Linked DNA regions of Homo sapiens. The protein of the gene in region 1 purifies or fractionates together with the protein of each later gene. This does not show direct contact. Each region holds a gene or a part of one and is shown in the gene's direction. Other genes may lie near its edges. The genes, in order: KLHL40, GNL1, ZNF106, ZNF81, CEP85L, KIF2C and ZNF746.

The links.
Region 2: the proteins of KLHL40 (region 1) and GNL1 purify together in Homo sapiens (affinity purification with mass spectrometry; 2 studies listed by BioGRID and IntAct, with this or other methods). This does not show direct contact.
Region 3: the proteins of KLHL40 (region 1) and ZNF106 purify together in Homo sapiens (affinity purification with mass spectrometry; 2 studies listed by BioGRID and IntAct, with this or other methods). This does not show direct contact.
Region 4: the proteins of KLHL40 (region 1) and ZNF81 purify together in Homo sapiens (affinity purification with mass spectrometry; 2 studies listed by BioGRID and IntAct, with this or other methods). This does not show direct contact.
Region 5: the proteins of KLHL40 (region 1) and CEP85L purify together in Homo sapiens (affinity purification with mass spectrometry; 2 studies listed by BioGRID and IntAct, with this or other methods). This does not show direct contact.
Region 6: the proteins of KLHL40 (region 1) and KIF2C purify together in Homo sapiens (affinity purification with mass spectrometry; 2 studies listed by BioGRID and IntAct, with this or other methods). This does not show direct contact.
Region 7: the proteins of KLHL40 (region 1) and ZNF746 purify together in Homo sapiens (affinity purification with mass spectrometry; 2 studies listed by BioGRID and IntAct, with this or other methods). This does not show direct contact.

Annotation. Positions count from the first base shown.
Region 1 is NC_000003.12:42,688,537-42,690,790, forward strand, and holds part of KLHL40 (kelch-like protein 40), read left to right. Parts: intron 1-73; coding exon 74-181; intron 182-332; coding exon 333-518; intron 519-2,254. UniProt on the Homo sapiens protein: Substrate-specific adapter of a BCR (BTB-CUL3-RBX1) E3 ubiquitin ligase complex that acts as a key regulator of skeletal muscle development.
Region 2 is NC_000006.12:30,546,490-30,549,989, reverse strand, and holds part of GNL1 (guanine nucleotide-binding protein-like 1), read left to right. Parts: intron 1-2,459; coding exon 2,460-2,638; intron 2,639-2,715; coding exon 2,716-2,878; intron 2,879-3,153; coding exon 3,154-3,294; intron 3,295-3,500. UniProt on the Homo sapiens protein: Possible regulatory or functional link with the histocompatibility cluster.
Region 3 is NC_000015.10:42,442,642-42,446,141, reverse strand, and holds part of ZNF106 (zinc finger protein 106), read left to right. Parts: intron 1-1,160; coding exon 1,161-1,315; intron 1,316-1,879; coding exon 1,880-1,940; intron 1,941-3,500. UniProt on the Homo sapiens protein: RNA-binding protein. Specifically binds to 5'-GGGGCC-3' sequence repeats in RNA. Essential for maintenance of peripheral motor neuron and skeletal muscle function.
Region 4 is NC_000023.11:47,885,402-47,888,901, forward strand, and holds part of ZNF81 (zinc finger protein 81), read left to right. Parts: intron 1-2,597; coding exon 2,598-2,724; exon of another isoform or gene 2,725-2,814; intron 2,815-3,500. UniProt on the Homo sapiens protein: May be involved in transcriptional regulation.
Region 5 is NC_000006.12:118,466,592-118,470,091, reverse strand, and holds part of CEP85L (centrosomal protein of 85 kDa-like), read left to right. Parts: intron 1-788; coding exon 789-1,020; intron 1,021-2,551; exon of another isoform or gene 2,552-2,633; intron 2,634-3,500. UniProt on the Homo sapiens protein: Plays an essential role in neuronal cell migration.
Region 6 is NC_000001.11:44,763,837-44,766,051, forward strand, and holds part of KIF2C (kinesin-like protein KIF2C), read left to right. Parts: intron 1-2,215. UniProt on the Homo sapiens protein: In complex with KIF18B, constitutes the major microtubule plus-end depolymerizing activity in mitotic cells. Regulates the turnover of microtubules at the kinetochore and functions in chromosome segregation during mitosis.
Region 7 is NC_000007.14:149,477,310-149,480,809, reverse strand, and holds part of ZNF746 (zinc finger protein 746), read left to right. Parts: intron 1-3,054; coding exon 3,055-3,246; intron 3,247-3,500.

The DNA of each region.
Region 1 (2,254 bases):
ATGGGTGCAGAGACAGGGACTGAGCCGAGCCTGGATGGGTGCCCTCCCCCACCCCCACTCCCGTCTCCTCCAGGTCATTCAAATGGGGTGAATCGGACCCGCTGCCTTACGTGGTGTATGGCCACACAGTGCTCTCCCACATGGACCTTGTCTACGTAATTGGCGGCAAAGGCAGTGACAGGTGAGGCTGGGCCTGGAGTGAGTCTGTGGAGCAGAGGTAGAATCTCCCAGAGGCTGTCAGGGGTTTGTCCTGGCTGCCCCGGCAGGTGATTGCAGGGAGGCGTGGCTGGGCTCCTGCTTCTCTCCACCCATCCCCACCCTCCACCCCACAGGAAGTGCCTGAACAAGATGTGCGTCTATGACCCCAAGAAGTTTGAGTGGAAGGAGCTGGCACCCATGCAGACCGCCCGCTCACTCTTTGGGGCCACTGTCCATGATGGCCGCATTATCGTGGCAGCTGGGGTCACCGACACAGGGCTGACCAGTTCTGCCGAAGTGTACAGCATCACAGACAACAAGTATGAAAGCTTGTCCCTTCCGCCAAGGACAACTGCATGGCTTTGGGCTTCTGTCAGCCCCAGCAGGAGCTGCAGTCCCTGTCTTGGGTCTCCAGTGTTGACTTTGGACATCAGTATAGAAATAGGCTTTCTCTCCTGATCAGCAGTGAGGTGGGGAGGCGGGGCAAGGGTTATGGCCAGCCTGGTCTGCAGGAGGGGGCTCCCAGGGCTGGGGGAGGGGATGCCAGGTTCCTCATTCAGGGACTCATACCAGGCAATGGCCTGGTGCAAGGGATATAGCAGTGAACAAGACAGAAGCTGCCCTGCCTGGGACATCAGAAAAGAGAAAACTGAACTGAGAGACAGTTGGACTCAGCTCGCAAAAGGGGTGAGGGTGGTGGGAGGAGGTTGCCCCAGACTAAGGAAAGGTGGTGCTGAGGCAGTTTGGAGAAAAAACTCAAGGCCTATAGGAGGGAAGGTGTTGCTCCAGCTGGGTGGAGGTGGGTGGGTGATGGAGTTGGGATGGCGGTGCTGGGGCTGGAGCGGGGGCCAGCAGGAGAGGGACTGTATCTCATCTGTGTTCTACTAAAGTACTTCATGGCAACTGATATAGAGAGCAGATTAGGGATTTCCCAGGGGTCAGGAAGGTCAGGGGTGATAAAGGCCTGGAGCTGGGGGCACAGCGGAGATGGGGTTGAGGGGATGCACCGGACAAAGACAGGCCAGGGCTTCTTACACTGTGATGGGCATGCAAATCTCCTGGGGATCGCCTTAAAGTGCAGATTCTGATTCTCGGTATGCGGAGGGCTGAAAGCCTGTAAGTCTGCATTTCTAACGCACCCCCAGGAGATGCTGACGCTGCTGGGCCATGAACCACACTTTGAGTAGCAAGAGTCTAGGAGGTGGGAGAAACAGGGCTTAGCTATTGATTGGATGTGGGGGTGAGAGGGGGAGAAGTACATGCTTCTGAGTGAGGGTGGGAGGCCATTTACTGGATAATCATTGGGATTGGGTAGGGAAAGTGAGGGTCCAGTTAGGACATGTGGACTTGAAGTACCTGGGGGTGTCCAAAAGGACCCCACCCGGGAGAGAGAGGGCTGAGCTGGAGGGAGAGATCTGGGGGTCAGTAGCACACGGAGGGGCCAAGCTCCCTCAGGAGAGAGAGTGTAAATGGGAGGAGCTGAGGTCCAAGCCCTGATGGTGGAGGCAGCTGCATTATCCAGGAAGGAGGCCACGAAGGTGAGGCCGAAGAGATGGGTGAGGAAAGTCACGTCAGCAGGGCTGTGTGCTGTAGGACCTCAGTGCGTGTGCAGTGACTGTGGACCTCAGGAAGGTCAGTTTTGGAGGATGGGACTAAGGCCCAAGGCAGGAGCCAGGGTAGCGAAGATACATTGAGAACAACTGGGCTGTGAAGGGAGAAGAAGGATAGAGCAGGTGTGCAAGGTGGGTGGGGCTGCAGGGGCCGCTGAGGGGCAAAAGGACTGCGTCCAGGGCAAGGCTGGGGGCCTGCTAGGGGCTGGGGTTGTGAGTTGGAGGGTGGAGTTAGTTCAGGAGAGGAGTAGGGGCAGTGGGGAGATCCATGGTGGACTTTGCTGGACAGGTTGGATAGAATGGCAAGAGGACAAGGAAAGGAAAGTGGAGGAGCAAGAGAATGGGGAAGGAAGGGAAGACCAGAGGGACAGGGAAGGGGAATGGGGTTGGGGGCATGGGTGCCTGGGACTTGGATTGCAAAGGGTTGCAGTTGGAGCTGTGGGTGC
Region 2 (3,500 bases), on another chromosome or scaffold:
TAGCCGTGTGTGGTGGTGCGTGCCTGTAGTCCCAGATACTCAGGAGGGTGAGGCAGGAGAATTGCTTGAATCCTGGAGGCAGAGGTTACGGTGAGCCAAGATCATACCACTGCACTCCAGCCTGGGTGACAGAGCAAGACTTCGTCAAAAAAAAAAAAAAAAAAGCCATGGAATTGGATGAGATGTAGGAGAGAAAGGAAATAGTTGGAGAAGAGGAGGTCAAGGACTGAGCCTTAGGACAAGCCAGCATTTAGTTGGGCAAAGGACAGTGAGAAGGAGGAAAACCAAGGGAGCGTCCCAGAAGTCAAATGAAGAAGGTGTTTGAAGAGGAAAGGAGGAATCAGCTGTGTCAACTGTTGCTGACAGGCCAAATGAGAGAACAGAGAGCTGCTCAGCAGGCTTGGCAATGTGAAGATCCGTGGTTTCAGTGGGGTGGAGAAAGCCAAACTGGAGTAGGCCCATGAGAGAAGGTGCAACAACTTCACATAACATTGTGTGAAAAGAGTCTGACCCAATAGCATCCATACTGCACAATTTCAGTTCTATCAAGTTTGAAAGCTGCAAAATTAAGCTGCATTGTTGAGAGATACACAGGTCATAAACTAAAGAGAAATGTAAGGAGTTGATTTCCTTAAAAGGATAAAGCTTGCATGTATAGAGGGAGAGGATTATGATCAAGAAGGATGAGTGGCGGCCGGTATGGTGGCTCATCCCTGTAATCCTAGCACTTTGGGAGGCTGAGGCAGGCGCATTACTTGAGGTCAGGAGTTTGAGACCAGCCTGGCCAACATGGCAAAACCCTATCTCTACTAAAAATACAAAAAGTTAGCCAGGTGTGGAGCCGCACGCCTGTGGTCTCAGCTACTCAGGAGGTTGAGGCACGAGAATCGCTTGAACCTGGGAGGATGAGGTTGTAGTGAGCCAACATCGCACCACTGCACTCCAGCCCGGGTGAGGGAGTGAGACTCTGTCTCAAAAACAAAAACAAAAAAAACAAGGACAGATGGAACATGTTGTCACACATTGGGTGGTATGGGGTTCATCAGGCTGCACATGTATGTTCTGTGCATTTTTTTGTATGTTGTAGTTTACAGTTACAAAGAAGATAGCAGGAAGAAATGGTGAAAAAAGTAGGTAAGTCTTTTAAGGAGTTTTCCTGCAAAGCGGACAGAGAACTAGGTCTGGTGGTGGTCGTCAAAGGAGAACTTTTTTCTCCCTCCTTCCCTCCCTTCCTCCTAGATACTTGCATGTGTTGTAAAGAGTGAGCACAGTGGTACATCTTTTCTTAGCCACAGTCAGCTGCCCAGGAGCAGTGCTGAATGGGCAGAGCTGGATTTTACAGGGTTGGGATTTTGCCAGGTGAGTAAGATAGAGGGGAGAAGTGGGACCAGGGAGTTCCAGGTCTGTGAACGGGCCTGGCTGAGGAGCTGGATCATGAAATCTGAGTCAAGTAAGAAGGAAATTGAGGACACGAGTTGGGTATTGCATAGTGTTACTGTGTTAAGGTCAGGGGTCAAAGACTTACTGGCATGGAGTAACCAGAGTAAGTGAGCTGGAAAGATGAGTTGTCAGGGCAGAGAGGGGTGCTTGGAATTGAGGCTTTGGAGCTGTGAAGTGACAAGATGCAGGTATTACCATGGGAGTGGGCAGCTGAGGTGGGGTAAAGGAGATGCTCTGTGGAAGGGAGATGAAGGCACTGAAGTCAGCCAGAAACACAAAAACTGGTGGTGGTGAGTGAGCAGAGTGGCAGTGAGCCCCAAGGCTTCCAGTTTTCTCCTTGGACAAGTCATCGTAATTATTATTATTATTTTTTGAGATGGAGTTTCCCTCTTATTGCCCAGGCTGGAGTGCAATGGTGCAATCTCAGCTCACTGCAACCTCCGCCTCCTGGGTTCAAGTGGTTCTCCTGCCTCAGCCTCCCAAGTAGCTGCAATTACAGGCGCCCACCACCACGCCCAGCTAATTTTTGTATTTTTAGTAGAGATGGGGTTTCACCATGTTGGCCAGGCTGGTCTTGAAGTCCTGACCTCAGGTGATCCACCCGCCTTGGCCTCCCAAAGTAATCACGCTGGGATTACAAGCGTGAGCCACTGTGCCAGGCCAAGTCATAGTAATTATGAGATGTGGATCACTGGTACTGGGTACTTACTGTACTGCAGGCACTGACCCACACAAGTTGTATTGGTTATCTCATTTAATCCTGACCACCCTGAGGTAGGGAGGTGTCCACACTGTAAAATGAAGAAACAGAGGCTCAGAAAGTTAGTTGCCCTGACATCACAAAGCTGGTAAGTGGAAGGGCCAGGATTTAACCCTGGCAGCCCAGAGCGTGATTTGTATTCTGCAATACCATTTCCTTAATTTCTGAGCCTTAGTTCCCCTTTTACCTATAGGTATAGCACCAAGTCCCATCACAGAGTAGAAACCTGTTAAACGTTAATTTTCCTTGCCTTCCTCAGGTTTCCCTAATGTGGGAAAGTCCTCGCTGATCAATGGGCTGGTGGGGCGGAAAGTCGTGAGTGTCTCCAGAACCCCGGGCCATACCCGATACTTTCAGACCTACTTTCTTACCCCCTCTGTGAAGCTCTGTGACTGCCCAGGCCTCATCTTCCCATCTCTTCTGCCTAGGCAGTTGCAGGTATGACGGGGAGGGTGGGTAAGGGAAAGAGAGAAGGTGGGACATTGAGGAAAGTACTGAGTGCTCATTTCCCTCAGGTTCTGGCAGGGATCTACCCTATCGCCCAGATCCAGGAGCCCTACACTGCTGTGGGCTACCTGGCCTCCCGAATTCCCGTGCAGGCCCTGCTCCACCTGCGCCACCCAGAGGCTGAGGACCCCTCAGCGGAACACCCCTGGTGTGCCTGGGACATCTGTGAAGGTGAGTTCCATGTGCCTGGCTTCGCCCCACCTGGTTTCAGCTGCTCTTCCTTACCTGCCTCGCCTTTTACCCTTCCCTGTCTCCTTTCCTCTCCTCAGAGATTCTGCCATTGATGAAGCTGCTGTCCACTCACCCCTAGATTTTTGTTGCATAGCCAGTAAGATCTCTGGCCTGGAATGTTTTGGGGAAAACTGGAAGGACTGTGTTATGGGAGTGGGAGTATAACTGGTACCTGGTTAATGCTTTCCCTTTCCATTATTCTTTTCTTCCTCCAGCCTGGGCAGAGAAACGTGGTTACAAGACAGCCAAGGCGGCTCGGAATGATGTGTACAGAGCAGCCAACAGTCTCTTGCGGCTGGCAGTGGACGGCCGCCTCAGCCTGTGTTTTCATCCCCCAGGCTACAGTGAACAGAAAGGTCAGAGCCCAGATATTCTTCCCCAGCCCCCTGCTATAGCGTAGGTAAAAGGGTGTGGGCTTTGTGGCCAGAGAGAGGGTCAAACCTGGATTCTGTACCTGTTGGCTAGCTCTGTTACTTAACATCTGTGATATTTTCCTGATCTGCAAACTGAGGGTAATAATTGACCCTTAGCATAGTGATTGTAAAGATTGAAGTTGATGTGC
Region 3 (3,500 bases), on another chromosome or scaffold:
CAACTGTAGAAGAAATATATGATGTCACATAGACTTGTAAGCCAAGGTTAGTATACCACTTGGACAATATAAAGCCAGGAAGTTTCCTTGAGCCTTTTCAGTGGGATGAAATGTGTTGGCCCTCTTGGTCATGTATAGCCATTTCTCTCACTTTCAGTTTTTGAGGCATCTTGGTTGCTTCCCCGCTGCCCCACCTCCACACTCCCTTCCTTGGTTGCTTTTCTAAAGTGAATTATGGAAAGAAGTTATTAACATTGCTCCCTCATTGATGTATTTCTGTGATTCTTGCTTTTCCTTGACTCTAACCCAGTTCTAGTATAAGGGCTAGTCCTGGAAGTGATTGGATGAGGCTTGAGTGAGTGGATGTGATGGATAAGGGAGGAGTCAAGGACAACCCACATTTCTGGCTGGGCCAACCAGATGGAGCATATGTAGAGCTAGAAAACTCCATGAGAGGAGCAGATTGAGAATAGAGAAAGATGATGAATTCCCTCAGGGATTCTTTGACTTAAAGGACCTTTGAGATAACCTAGCTAGAAATATCATAGTCAGTAGTTGGATATGTGGGTGTGGAGCTTAAGGGAGAGGTCCTGGCATATTGAATAGGAAACAGACAAACACAATGATGGTAAATACATACACAGAACATTTTATTCAAACTAAGTTAAATGTACTATTTCAAAGCTGTATTTTCTTCAGGAAGTCTTCTCTAATAAAAACAATTTTTAAGTCAACTAACAGACTAAATATGGATTGGAAAGAGAGTGCAAGCAGTCTAGGTCTAGAGTCCAATCTAAGCAAAAGTCCTGTGTGAAGACAGTGGTAGATAAAGGAAGAATGGGAAACGAGTCCTAGAACAGGTGGTTTGCATGGGACAGATTTCACCTGGAAAGGTGGTGGTAGAAGGCGGTGATTAGATGAGACAGAATGATGTGATGGTACACTGGAGCTTATGAGATACCTCCATCTTAGCAGTTCTCACTTTTGGTTCCTAGCTTTGATATCATTGTGCTTGACTAAATGTTTTATGAATTTCCAATGACCTACTGAGGAGAACATAAAGTCTTATCCTAAATAATGGGTATAGTTTAGTCTTCTGAGCTGTGTGATGAGAGGGAAATCTCTCGTATTAACCTGAACCTTATGATTTCTTTTGGCAGAACGTTCTCAGGTTGACCAGCTGCTGAATATTTCTTTAAGGGAGGAAGAACTTAGTAAGTCATTGCAGTGCATGGATAACAATCTTCTGCAAGCCCGTGCAGCCCTTCAGACAGCTTATGTGGAAGTTCAGAGGCTACTTATGCTCAAGCAGCAGGTAACAGCATGTGGAGGATTTAATAAAAATGGATCATCTCCGAAATCTTGTTTTGTGCTGCCAAACCCATGTCTGGAGTCACCCCAAAAGCAATGGCAGGGGAGTTTCCACAAGGGAAGTGCCCCAGACTGTGCCTAATGGGGGACAGTTAGGATTCCAAAGAAAGAAGCACTAAATGCCAGGGTGATGAGTCCAAAGCATTTATTAGGAGAGCTTACTTACAGAGTAGGCTGCAGCAGTCCCCACAAGGGTGTTCTCCCTAGGTATATCCACAGCCAGGGGGCGGGATGTGGAGTTTATATGAGGGTTTAAGGAATTTGGCTCAGGGCCAGGGCCAATTTCTTTCAGTGTTTTGGGCAACAACCTAGATACTTTTATCAGTGCCTGGGAATCTTCAAGGCCCCAGGTAGGGTTCAAGCCTGCTGGAGAAAACCTGCGGCTGGCTGGGTCACAGAGCAGTCAAGACACTCTGATTTTTGGTCAGGACATAGAAGAAAAATGGGGAGACCTAGAGGACCTTACAAGTTGGATTTCAAAATGCTTAATAAAATACTTTATTTTTAGATAACTATGGAGATGAGTGCACTGAGGACCCATAGAATACAGATTCTACAGGGATTACAAGGTATTCAGAGGGCATCTGATGGATTGGGCCCTCTATAGCGTGTTACTTTTTTGTTTTCTCTGCTTTTTTTTTTTTTTTTTTTTTTTTTTGGAGACAGAGTCTTGCTCTATTTCCCAGGCTGGAGTGCAGTGGTGCAATCTCTGCTCACTGCAACCTCTGCCTCCCAGGTTCAAGTGATACTCGTGCCTCAGCATTTGATTAGCTGGAATTACAGGTGCCCACCCCACCCCCAGCTAATTTTTGTATTTTTAGTAGAGACAGGGTTACAGGGTTCGCCATGTTGGCCAGACTGGTCTCGAACTCCTGACCTCAGGTGATCCGCCTGCCTCAGCCTCCCAAAGTTCTGGGATTACAGGCATGAGCCACTGCACCAGGCCTTTTTGTTCTCTTTGAGGGGATGAAAAGTAGTCATGAAAAGGTCATGTTATTTCTCTCCTGTCTCCTTGGTTTCATCCTTTTTTTTTGTTTTTTTGAGACAGGGTCTTGCTCTGTCACTCAGGCTGGAGCGCAGTGGCACGATCATGGCTCACTGCAGCCTTGACCTCCTGGGCTCAAGCAATTTTCCCACCTCACTCCCCCCAGTAGCTGGGACTACAGACGTGTGTCACCATGCCTGGTTATTAAAATTTCTAACTTTTAATTTTATAAAATTATGATTTAAATTGTAAAAATTTAAAGGTTATAAAAAGTTATATAAAATTATAAAAAGTTATAAAAATTAAAAAATGCTTTTATAGAGATGGAATCTCCCAGTGTTTCCCAGGATAGTCCCAAACTCCTGGGCTCAAGCAGTCCTCCTAACTTGACCTCCCAAATGGTTGGGATTACAGGCCTGAACCACCACGCCTGGCCAGTTTCTTCCTTCTATAGAAAGGTCTGTAAACTGTGCATCCCAAAAATGTTTAGCAACAGACAATATGTTATGGAAAGAGTTTTGATTAGGAATCAAAAGGCCTGGGTTCAAATCTTCTCCCTTCCATTAGTAGCCTATATAACTTTGGATAAGTCATTTAAAATTTGAAAAATTGGAATGTTGCTAGGCACAGTGCCTCATGCCTGTAATCCCAGCACTTTGGGAGTCTGAGGCAGGTGGATTCCTTGAGCCCAGAAGTTTGAGACCAGCCTGGGCAATGTGGTGAAACCCTGTCTCTACAAATAAATACAAAAATTATTGATAATTATTATTAGTAATAATAATAATTCCAGCCTGACCAACATGGTGAAACCCCATCTCTACTAAAAATACAAAAATTAGCTGGGCATGGTGGCGTGCTCCTGTAATCCCAGCTACTCAGGACGCTGAGGCAGGAGAATCGCTTGGACCCGGGAGGTGGAGGTTGCAGTGAGCCGAGATTGCGCCACTGCACTCCAGCCTGGGTGACAGAGTGAGACTCTGTCTCAAAAAAATAATAACAATAATAGCTGGGCATAGTGGCATGTGCCTATAATCCCAGCTGCTTGGGAGGCTGAGGCAGGAGAATTGCTTGAGTCCAGGAGGTCAAGGCTGCAGTGAGCAGTGTTTGCACCACTGCACTGCAGCCTGGGTGACAAAGCGAGACC
Region 4 (3,500 bases), on another chromosome or scaffold:
CCTTCTGGGTCTTAAATTGCATGTATGTTAGATCTTTTGATTTTTGTCTTACTCATCTGTTTTAGTTTGTTTGTCCTACTGTAACAACATTCCTGAGATTTGGTATCTTATAAACAATAGAAATTTATTTCTCACAATTCTGGAGGCTGAGAAGTCCAAGATAAAGGCACCAGCAGCTTAGGTGTCCAGTGAGGGCTGCTCTCTGCTTCCAAGATGGCGCCTTGTTGCTGTGTCCTCCAGAGGGGGTGAATTCTGTGTCCTCACGTGGTGGAAAGTGTGGAAGGTCAAAAAGGAAGGATGTAGCTAGTTCCCTCCAGCCCTTTTAAAAGAACACTAACCCATTCATGAGCCCTCATGACCTAAATAACTTCCAAAGGTCATACCTCTTAATACTGTTACATTGGGATTAAATTTCAACATGAATTTTGGAGGGACAACAAACATTGAAACCATAGCATCATCCCTGAGACTCCGTTTGTTTTTATTTTCAATTTTGTTCTCTCTGCTTTTCAGATTGGATAATTTCTGTTGGTCTATGTTTAAGTTAATTACCTCTTTCTTCAGTTACCTCTATTCTTCTGTCAAGCCCATCCAGTGAACTTTTTAGTTTCAGATTGTATTTTTCAGTTTTTTAAAATAGTTTATATTTCTTAGTTGGCCTATCCTATTTAATCATTCATTATGAACATATTTGTATGTTTTTGAGCATAATTATAACTAACTGATTTAAAGTGCTTTTCTGCTAATTCTAGCATCTGGATCACCTCAGGTCAGTCTCTGAGTGCATTTTCTCTTGAGCCTCTTCCCTTTCTCTCCACACCTTTCTGTCTCTTTCTCTGTTGAGTTGTTTTGGATTGTATCTTTGTTGTGAAACATACATTAGAGATGCTTGATTCTGTTTAATTCCTCTGACTATTGTTGATTTTTTTGTTTTGCTTTGTGTAGGGAGCACTTAACTTGGCTAGACTCAAACTAGGAAATGTTTTCTCTGTGGTATGTGGTAGCTCAAATTCCAGTTCATTCAGCTGGTCAATCAGAGATCTGGGCAGAGTTCATTCACAGAATTTAGGCACCCTTCTCTCTTTCAATGCCTTTCTGGATTCCCCCTTGATTTTCCAATGGTAGTGATGACTGCAGAACTCCCCTTCAATTCTTCAAGTCAATAACACTGGTGGTTTTCTTTTCTTTTCTCTCTCTCTCTTTTTTTTTTTTTTTTGAGACAGGGTCTCACTCTGTCACCCAGGCTGGAGTGCAGTGGCACAATCATAGCTCACTGAGCCTTGACCTCTCAGGTTTAATCAGTCTTCCCGCCTCAGCCTCCCAAGTAGCCGGGACCACAGGCATGTACCACTTCTCTTGGAATTTTAGTTACCCCACGTGGCACTGACTGGGCCTATTCACAAGCTAAAGTGCCAGCCTCTCTTCTAAGTGTCAGCTCTCCTCCCATAGATGCCTGACTTGGGTTGCTCCTTAGTATCTTTAGATAGTTTTTAAAATATTTTTTGTTCAGAGTTTATAGTTGTTATGTGTATGAAGGTTGGTCTGATAAAAGCAATGCAGTCATACTGAAACTTAATTTTTGTTAATTTTTGTATATGGTGTGAGGCGTGGGTCAAGGTTTATGCTTTTTTCCTAATACTGATATCTATCTCTTCCAACACAATTTGTTGAAAAGACTTCACTTTCGCCCATTGAATCACATTGGCACTTTTGTCAAAAAACAATTGTCCGTACATGTGTGGGTCTGTTTCTGGACTTTATTCTGTTCTAATGATATATCTGTCTGTGCATACATCATCCCATACTGCCTGTATTACTGTAGCTTTACAGTAAATCTTAACATTAGGGGGTATAAATCCTTCATACTTTTTCTTGCTTTTGGCTATTCTGGGTCCTTCGCATAGCCATATAAACTTTAACATTTGTCAGTTTTTACCAAAATCTTGACAAATAAGTGATTAAACAAGTAGAAAACAAATCAGTGATGCAACAGGAAATTTCAACAACACTCAACCAACTTGATTTATACATTACAGAACAATACAGCCATCAATAGCCAAATATATATTCTTTTCAGGGAGACATGGACCATTATCCTAGATAGACCATATGTTGAAATCATACAGAGTATACTTTCTGACCATGACGGAATTAAATTAGAAATGAGCAATAACAGGGCATCAAGAGAAAGAGGCCATATTTTTGAAGAGTAAATGAAAGCAACAGGAGAGGGAGCTATGTGAAATTTTTAAAAATTGGGATGGAAGGGATATATGTGCTTCCTTCTACAAGTTATAGGGCACAAATTTCTCATAAAAATGAGCAACAAAATAGGATCAAGGTCAAATCCTTACTAAAAATTATAATTTTTAATAAATGGAAGAGTAAATGTCATACATAATAAATAGCAGAAATTTATGATTAGATTTTTATATTCTACACAATATTACATATGTGTATATATATAAACTAAGTATTTAATGGGCATACCATATCGTATATTATGATGAAAAAGTATCAAAAAGAGCTTCCTATCTGTTTTCTCTCCATCCTCCAGTGCTGATCATGTTGCCTTGAACAAGATTGTGTTGTTACAGGTATCAGTGTCATTTGAGGATGTGACTGTGGACTTCAGTAGAGAGGAGTGGCAGCAACTGGACTCTACTCAAAGACGCCTGTACCAGGATGTAATGTTGGAGAACTACAGCCACCTGCTCTCAGTGGGTAAGGACAACCATCCTGTGAAGTTGTGAGGAGCCTGTTATGGGTTAAATTGTGCCCCCAAATAAAATATGTTGAAGTCCTAATACCCCAGCCCCCCAGAATGTGACCTTATTTGGAAATAGAGTCTTTACAGAAGTAATCAAGCTAAAATGAGATCATTAGGGTGGGCTTTAATCTAATATAATTGGTGTCCTTATAAAAAGGAGAAAACTGGACACAGACACATATACACATACGCACGCACACACACACACAAACACACACACAGAGGGAAGACAATATGAAGATACACAGGGAGAAGATGGAATGTGACTAGAATGATACATCTGTAAGCCAAGAAACACTTGAGGCCACCAGAAGCTAAGAGAGGCCTGGAACAGTTCCTTCCCTAGCACCTTCAAAGAGAGTATGGCCCTGCTAACACCTTGGTTTTGGAGTTCTGGCCTCCAGAACTGTGAGACAATAAATTTCTCTTGTTTTGAGCCCCCTAGTTTGTGGTACTTTGTTATAACAGCCCTAGGAAACTAATACAGAGTTTTACACTTGGAAATGGGGTGTGGCTGTGATAAATACCTTAAAAATGTGAAGTGGCTTTGGAATTGGGTAACGGGTAGAGGCTGGAGCTAGGGGCTAGGTTTTGATATGCTTGACAGAAAAAGCCTAGATTGCGTTAACGAGACTATTGGTAGAAACATGAATGTTAAAGGTACTTTTAGTGAGATCTCAGATAGAAATAAGGAACATATTATTGCAAACTGGAAGAAAAGCGATCCTTG
Region 5 (3,500 bases), on another chromosome or scaffold:
CTCGCACCGAAGTTTGTGGTTCCTATCAACATTAACATAGATGCTTCCCCCCACCAATATGCAAAAAGTAGTTTCAAAGTAATTAAACCACTATTGCTACTAACAATAAAAACCACAGAGTGAGGTTCAAAGTTACTTTTTAGTTCTTTTTATCCTTGGAATAAATCTCATTATAGAAAAATACAGGCTGGGTATGGTGGCTCACACCTGTAATCCTAATACTTTGTTTTGGGAACCTGAGGTGGGCAGATCACTTCACCCCAGGAGTTTGAGACCAGCTTAGGCAATGTGACAAAACCCTCTCTCTACAAAAAATGCAAAAATTAGCCAGGCATCATGGTGTTTACCTGTGGTCCCAGATATTCAGGAGGCTGAGGTGGGAGGATCACCAGAGCCCGAGGAGGTCAAGGCTGCAGTAGTGAGTCATGATTGCGCCACTGTACTCCAGCCTGGGTGACAGATTGAGGCCCAAAAAAGAAAAATACATACACAACCAACATGCTTATTACGTGAGAGACTCCTAGAAACTGAGACTGGATTTATGTTTCCTCCCTTGGATATACGCTAAAGCATCAGATGGCACAGAGAAACAATTTCCACTATTTAAATTGTTATTTTTCTATGTGTTTTTTTTCCCACTGCATATATGTAGTTGAATTTGGTTAATGTGCATATAATATGACTCCATCGTTTTGTTTATAGACTTGGGGGAGAATGTTAACCTGTATGGCTTTGAGTACCTTTCCTCTGTTCTAACAATCTGATGTTTGTTTTCTTTATCCTTGCAGAACCAAAGACAAACAGATGAGACATGCTCTTTATTGGATCAGGGCCAGGAACCTGACCAATCTAGGCAGCAGACAGTTCTTTCCAAACGGCCACTATTTGATTTGACTGTGATTGATCAGCTGTTCAAGGAAATGTCCTGTTGTTTGTTTGACTTGAAAGCATTGTGTAGTATTCTTAATCAGCGTGCTCAGGGCAAGGAGCCTAATCTTTCATTATTACTGGGAATAAGATGTAAGTGTCTGATGACTTGTCCTTATTTTGTGGCAATTAGAAACCTATCTTCATGAATCAGGAACTTCCGACTGCCTTTTCTCTGTTTATTTTTGTAATCTCTTTTCCTACTTAGAATCAGTCTGTGGGTTTATGTATACCTGTTATTACTTCATTGCAAGAAGTGAGTAGGGTTATAGCTGACATTAACTGCCACTTGGTAGAATGCCTGGTGATGTTTCCTATGTTGAATCTGTAAATATGTGAATAGAGTGGTAGTTAGGTGTGACTTCCCATTTTCTCTTCCAAAAATAATGATTCCTTCTATTTGCTTTCATGTGTTAGTTGTATAGATTAAGTGACCCAACCATATTGTCCACTGGTAAAATATTTGAGAAATATTTTTGCTTTCCAGTGCAGTATATGTTCTATGGCAGCTGCTTCACGTGAGTGCCAGTGATTTCACATGAGCCAGTTTTCACAGCCTACAAATCTGTTGCCTTTGTCATGCGTACCTGCTGGCTTAATGTGACACCCATTCACTCTTGGCCTCAATTCTGTCTTCCTCCACACATAATTGTGGGAGCTGCCACAGTAATAATCCTAGTGTCCCTTTCTTTCTGTGCTACTTTTGCAGAAACGCTCATCTCTGTACGTGGTTCCAAATCAGGATGTTAGTCTCTTTATAATAGAGAAGAAATGAACTTGGAAGGAAATAGGAATGCAGTAAGACCATATAATAAGGTTTATGGGCCAACGTGTATTTAGTAGCTGCCTAATATTATGGTTAATAATACTGGTTTTGTTTCAAACAAACTGATTTTGTTTCTAGTTTCATCAAAAAGATTCCACCATTTTGCATCATAATAGTTATTTTGGCAAATCAAATAATGCTCTTGACCAAAGTATATCACTTGTTAAATGAAACATTATCTGTGCTCAACTATGTCCCTTTCATTTCATAGACATTTGTACACATACACAAATGTGGATATCGAAAAAACACATAATGTTTAAGTATATTCACTCACGGAGTAAACATTTATCAGATGCCTTCTATGGTCCAGACACTAAGTAAGTGCTGGTAATGCAGATAACCTGAACACAGTCCTTGTCCACACATTAACCAAATTATTAGAGCATTCTGATAGGTGCTATAGTTGAGATGTGGACAAAGGACAGTGGGAGCACAAGAGGAAAAAAACAACTAAATCTACGTGGGAAGGGCTGTGGAGACTCCACAGAGTAGTTGGTGTTCAGTGTCGCTCTCAGACGAGGAAGAGGAGAAGTTTGCCTGGTGAACATGGAGTGCTTTAATATCTCTTGGGAGCAAGAAGCAAAGCTCACACACAAAGGGAACTCACTTTCTTCATGATTTTAGAGTTGGTCACCCTTTTAATTACTTTAGAGTCTCCTACATTTTCACTGTCATAAGGTAGCATTTGTTAAGTTTTTCAGTAATAGAGTAGTAGAGCTATCCTAATGTGAATCTTACCACGCCCACCTCCCAATACTCCTTCTAGTCTTTAAAGTTTGACCCCAGAATCCTTACCTTATATTTGGCATTGTGAAAGTTTTACCAGCCAGTTGATTTGTGAAAAACCAGTCACTTCATGGCTCCATTTACTCACCCTGTCCTTCTGAAAACTGTGCACTACCTTGGTTTCCATGACATCATTCTCTAGGTTCTGCTTCTGCCTTTATGACTGCTCAGTCTCTGTCTTCTGTGGACTTCTCTGCCACTTAATTATTGGTATCCCCAGAAGCCTTTTGTTACTGGTTTTGTGTTTGTTTCTTTTTATTCAGTACTTTATCTGAGTGATCTTATCCACTCCTGTTTTTTCTGTTACTGCCATACCTTTCACCTAGACATTTATCTCCTTTACCCAGACATTTATCTCCTCTGGGCTCCAGATTATATTCCCATGTATATTAGAACTGGCTATTTCAAATGCATCACAGACTCTACACATTCAAAACCAGAACACACTTTCCTTCCCTCCCTGAACCGGTTCCTCTTCTCAGTGAGTAACACCACCATTCACCTGTCACTTGAACCCAGAATTTATTCTCCACTCTGCTTTTTCCTTCATCTGGCGCCTGTGCCCAATCCCTGCCCATCACTCAAGTTGATGATGATTGAGTGCTATCAGTTCTGTCATCTGCTTACTACATCTAACATTCCTGCCCTTCTATCTCCATTGCACTATTGCCTTAATTTAAGTTTTCATAACCCGTCACCTATACTGGTCTCTCTGACAACCATCTTTCTCATCCCCTCCCCCTAATCCATTTTACATTGTTGCCAGACAGATCTGTCTAAACTATGAACCTGGTTTCCTAATGCCTACACTGCTCTGTGGTCAAGATAGGTAGCTACTACCTACCTCTATAGCCTTATTTCTTGGTACTCTCCTTTGTCACAGTTTGTACTCTACCATTTTAGAGCTAGATACTGATTTTCTTGAGGTTTCTCAAATTCTATCATACTGTTTTGCTTT
Region 6 (2,215 bases), on another chromosome or scaffold:
CAGCCTGGCCAACGTGGCGAAACCCCATGTCTACTAAATACAAAAAATTAGCCGAGTATGGTGGCGGGCGCCTGTAATCTCAGCTACTTGGGAGGCTGAGGCAGGAGAATTACTTGAACCAGGGAGGCAAAGGTTGTAGTGAGTCAAGATCGTGCCACTGCACTCTAGCCTGGGTGACAGAGCAAGACTCCATCTCAGAAAAAAAAAAAGAGAAACTAGTGCCTAGACCAAACTGTGTCCGTGTTCATGGGATTGGAATGAGGACATGAGATTCATGAACCATTTAGATATACAAGCATGAAAATCTTACAAGGTACCCCCCAAAATATGTACTCTCTCTCTATATATATATGTTTTTGAGACAGAGTCTCACTCGTCACCCAGGCTGGAGTTTAGTGGTGCAATCTTGGCTCACTGCAGCCTCCGCCTCCTGGGTTCAAGCGATTCTCCTTCCTCAGCCTCCTGCGTACCTGGGATTACAGGTGCGTGCCACCATGCCTGGCTAATTTTTTGTATTTTTAGTAGAGATGGGGTTTTACCATGTTGGCCAGGCTGGTCTTGAACTCCTGATCTTAAGTGATCCGCCTGCCTCAGCCTCCCAAAGTGCTGGGATTACAGGTGTGAGCCACCATGCCCAGCCTATATATCTGGTTGGTTTTTGTTTGTTTGTTTGTTTGTTTGTTTTGGGGGGGGATGGAGTTTCGCTTTTGTCCCCCAGGCTGGAGTGCAACGGCACCATCTCGGCTCACCACAACCTCCACCTCCCAGGTTCAAGCAATTCTCCTGCCTCAGCCTCCCAAGTAGCTGGGATTACAGGCATGTGCCACCACGCCCAGCTAATTTTGTATTTTTAGTAGAGACGGGATTTCTCCATGTTGGTCAGGCTGGTCTCGAACTCCCTACCTCAGGTGATCCTCCCGCCCCGACCTCCCAAAGTGCTGGGATTACAGGCGTGAGCCACCACGCCCAGTCGTATATCTATTATTTAAAAAGAATCATTTGACCGGGCGCAATGGCTCACGCCTGTAATCCTGTCACTTTGGGAGGCTGAGGCGGCCACATCAACTAAGGTCGGGAGTTTGAAACCAGCCTGGCCAACATGGTGAAACCCCGTCTCTACTAAAAATACAAAAATTAGCCAGGCATGGTGGCAGGCATCTGTTATCCCAGCTACTTGGGAGGCTGAGGCAGGAGAATCACTTGAGCCCAGGAGGCGAAGGTTATAGTGAGCCGAGATGGTGCCACTGCACTCCAGCCTGGGCAACAGAGCAAGACTGTCTCAAAAATAAAATAAAATAATCATTTGGCCAGGTGCAGTGAGTCATGCCTGTAATCCCAACACTTTGGGAGGTCAAGGAAGGAAGATCACTTGAGCTCAGGAGTTCGAGACCAGCCTGGGTAACATGGCCCCATCTCTACAAAAAATAAAAATAAATAAATATCCCAAAGGTGGTGTGTGCAGCAAAAATTATAATAAAAAGAACTGAGGGTAGGGATAGCATTAGGAGATATACCCAATGTAAATGACAAGTTAATGGGTGCAGCACACCAACATAGTTCATGTATACATATGTAACAAACCTGCACGTTGTGCACATGTACCCTAGAACTTAAAGTATAATAATAAAAAAAGAAAGAAAGAAAGAAAAAAACCATTTAGGGAGCAGAATTGAGGAGGATTTGGTGACAAGTACGGTGAAAGAATAAAGTCACTCGGGCTGGGCGCGGTGGCTTATGCCTATAATCCCAGCACTTTGGGAGGCCAAGGCAGGCAGATCACAAGGTCAGGAGATCAAGACCATCCTGGCCAACATAGTGAAACCCTGTCTCTACTAAAAAATAAAAAAAAATAGCCTGGTGTGGTGGCGCGTACCTGTAGTCTCAGCTACTCGGGAGGCTGAGTTGTATACCTATTATTTAAAAAGAATCATTTGACCGGGCGTGATGGCTCACGCCTGTAATCCTAGCACTTTAGGAGGCTGATGCAGGCAGATCAACTAAGGTCGGGAATTTGAGACCAGCCTGGCTAACAAGGTGAAATCTTGTCTCTACTAAAAATACAAAAATTAGCCAGGCATGGTGGCAGGCACCTGTAATCCCAGCTACTTGGGAGGCTGAGGCAGGAGAATCACTTGAACCCGGGAGGCGGAGGTTGCAGTGAGCCGAGATCACGCCACTGCACTCCAACCTGGCGACAGAGCAAGACTCCGTCTTA
Region 7 (3,500 bases), on another chromosome or scaffold:
GTTCACTATTCACCATTCAATCATTTCCATTCTGTTGTTTAACCTACACATTGGATTTTAAAATTTCAGTTATTAGCCAGGCGCGGTAGCTCACGCCTGTAATCCTAGCACTTGGGGAGGCCGAGGCTGGCAGATTGCCTGAGCTCAGGAGTTCAAGACCAGCCTGGGCAACACAGTGAAACTCCATCTCTACTAAAATACATAAAAATTAGCTGGGCCTAGAGGCATGCACCTGTAGTCCCAGTGCTACTGGGGAGGCTGAGGCAGGAGAATTGCTTGAACCCGGGAGGCAGAGGTTGCAGTGAGCCAAGATCGCGCCACTGCACTCCAGCCTGGGCAACAGAGCGAGACTCCATCTCAAACAAACAAACAAACAAACAAACAAAACAACAGTTATTTTTTCTCACCATTCTAAAGAATGTTACATTTGATTCTTTTTCAAAATTTGGTCAGTTTTGATAGTCTTATTTCTCCATACTTTCATTCCCCCTTTTTATTTCTGTAAATAATTGAACTTTATATTCCTTATATGATAATTTTAATATCCAAAGTCATTGGTCATATTCTCCAGTTCATGATTTCTGCTGAGTTTGTGGTGCTGATTTTCTCGAGATGGTGATGTGTAATTGTGAGCTCATTGATTATTTGAAAGCTATGTTTAAAATGCTTTCCTCCTGAGAATGTGTGTGTGTTCCTCAGCTGGTCATCTGATGCCAATGCAGACTTAGGACCACTTCAAGCTACAGTCTTGACCTGGAAGTTTTTGGGCCACAATGGGCCTCCTGAGTAGCTGGGACCACAGGGGATGCCACCATGCCTGGCTAACTTTTTTTAAAAACTTTTTTTTTTCCCCTCTGTGGAGACAGGGTCTTCTATGTTGCCTAGGCTGGCTTTTTTTGTTTGTTTATTTGAAACAGGGTCTCACCTTGTCACCCAGCCTGAAGTGTAGTGGCACAAACATGGCTCACTGCAGCCTCAAACTCCTGGGCTCAAGAGCTCCTCCCACCTCAGCCTCCCAGACTGCTGAGATTACAGACATGAGCCACTGTACCCAGCCTACTCAGCAATTTTAGATATTCCACATTGGGAGGAATTTCTGTTTCTCTGCACATCTAGCCAGCCATATGTCAGAAATAGAAGAGCTAAATGCTGTTTTTACATCTGTTGAGATGATTATATTGTTTTTGCTATTAATCTTAACTTTGTTCGTTATATTTTCTAGTGTTATCCTTGAGCTCTCAGAATAAACCCAATGTGTTCATAATATGTCTTTTTCTTTTTTGAAAATATATTGCTGAGTTTGATTTGTAATTCTTTCATTTAGAATCTTTGCATATCTGTTCATATATGAGATTATTTTTTAAATTTGTTCATATACTACCCCTCTAGTTTGTGCAATAAAAATTGTCTTAGCCTCATAAAATGAGTTGACAGATGTTTTCTCTCAACATTTGAAGATATTCCATTGTCTTCTGATATCCTAGTTGCTGAAGAAAATCTCCTGTAGTCTGAATGTCATTATTTTCTCTTGGGTACCTTTTAAGGTTTTTCTCTTTGTCTTTGCTGTGGTTCCATTTCACATGAATGTTGTCTAGGTTTGTTTGTTTGTTTTATTACCTACTTGGGAATTGGTCTGTTCCTTCAAACTGTGGACTTAACAATGCCTTCAGTTTTGGAAAATTCTCAACCATTATTTCTTTACCTATTGCCATTACTCATTTCTCCATTCTCTTCTTCTGGGATTTCTACCAGCATGTGTTGGAATTTCTCATTCTGTCCTCCAGGTCTCTTAACTTTTTCATATTTTTCATTCTTTATCTCTCAGTGTTGTACTCTGGGTTATTTCCCTGGATCTCTCTCCCAAGTCACTAATATTCTCTCTAGCTGTGTTCAGTCTGTTGTTGTTGAGCCAGAGCCATCCATTTGAGTTTTTCATTTCCACAGCTGCCTCTGTCGTTTCTAGAATGTTGAGTTCTTTTTCAAATCTGCCTTTTTCAAAATAATTTGCTGTTCTTGCCTTAAAGATTCTGTTCTTTATCTCTTTGATGATCTTAGACATACTTAGGTTACTGTATCATTCAGCCTCTCCTTTTTTTCATTAGTTCTTGGGAGTGAACTCTGCCATGACTCTCATGGCCATTTGGCACCTCTTCTGTTTTGTAAGTTTTAGTTTTTCTTCTGGTTTTAGTTTTCCCTTAGGAGCCCCCTGTGGACTGCATTGTGTGGGTGCCCCTCTGAGGCAGATCTGCATTTGCCCATGCTGGGGCCTCCTGAGTTGCCATGGCTCTCAGCCAATTTTTCTGTGAATTTCTCAGTTTATGGTGTCTGCCCGTGTGGGTAGTGTGAATTCTGTGTGGACATGGGATTCCAAGTTTTTATGGGTTTCTTTCCCACACATAGCCCTGGACAAGTAGGCTGCTTCCTGGTGGCTCCCGCAGGCAGACAGAGTTTTCCTAGTCCCCATCTCACAGACAGGCCAGAGCCTATGACTCCTGGCTTCAGGCAGGCGGCTCGGCCACACTCCCAACCTCACATGGACATGAAAGCCCAGCCCCTAAGGCCTGTATCCTACTCCAACAACTCTCTAGGTCACTTGCCTTCCACTGTAACTCGTGATTGACTCTGTGTGTTCTCTGTCATTCTTGCCTCTGGGATCTTTTCTTTTGCACTCACTTAAATATATGAGGGGGGAAGGTTTTGGGGGGACTTGGGGTTCACTTTTGTTCAGCATTTCTTGTGTTTCAAGTGAGGGCAGGCCATCCCCAGGGCAACTTAGTCTCCCTCTGGACCACCAGCCTAGCCCTGAGAATGTGCTTGTGTATTCTTCCCCTCCCCCGCCTCAGCCTTTCCTACCCTACCCGCATTCCCAATACCATGTGACCTCAGGCTCTGCCCTAGGCTCCCATCCTGTTTGCTGCTGCCTCCCTTCCCACCAGGCTCTTTTGCTGTTGGACCCTTGTAAGGCCCCTGTGTCTATCTCTCCGGCTGGATGCGTGTATGCCCCAGGGCTGAGGGGCCGTGATGCTGTATCCTCACACTCACTCCCTTTCCTAGGCTCGGGGCCCCCAGTTCCCGCCCCAGACCTCTTGATGCAGATCAAGCAGGAGGGTGAGCTCCAGCTCCAGGAGCAGCAGGCCCTGGGCGTGGAGGCGTGGGCAGCCGGGCAGCCAGATATTGGGGAGGAGCCCTGGGGCCTCAGCCAGCTGGATTCCGGAGCAGGAGACATCTCCACGGATGCCACCTCTGGTAAGTGGCTGAGACGGGGACATAAGGAACAAGTTGCAGGGATCACAGGAGGGACAGGGGAGGGCTCGTGGCAGCATGGGGGAGCTGTGGGCCCTCAACACTTCCGGCCTGACAACTTTAGAAATTTTCCCGTCTCGAGGTAGGACTGTACTAAAGGACTTGTCTCGAGCCTCTCTCGGGTGGCTGATGCTGTCCCTGGGTGTCTCTCTGGCCCTGTTCCAGTGGCCCCTATATCACCGTGAGGCCGCTTCTCT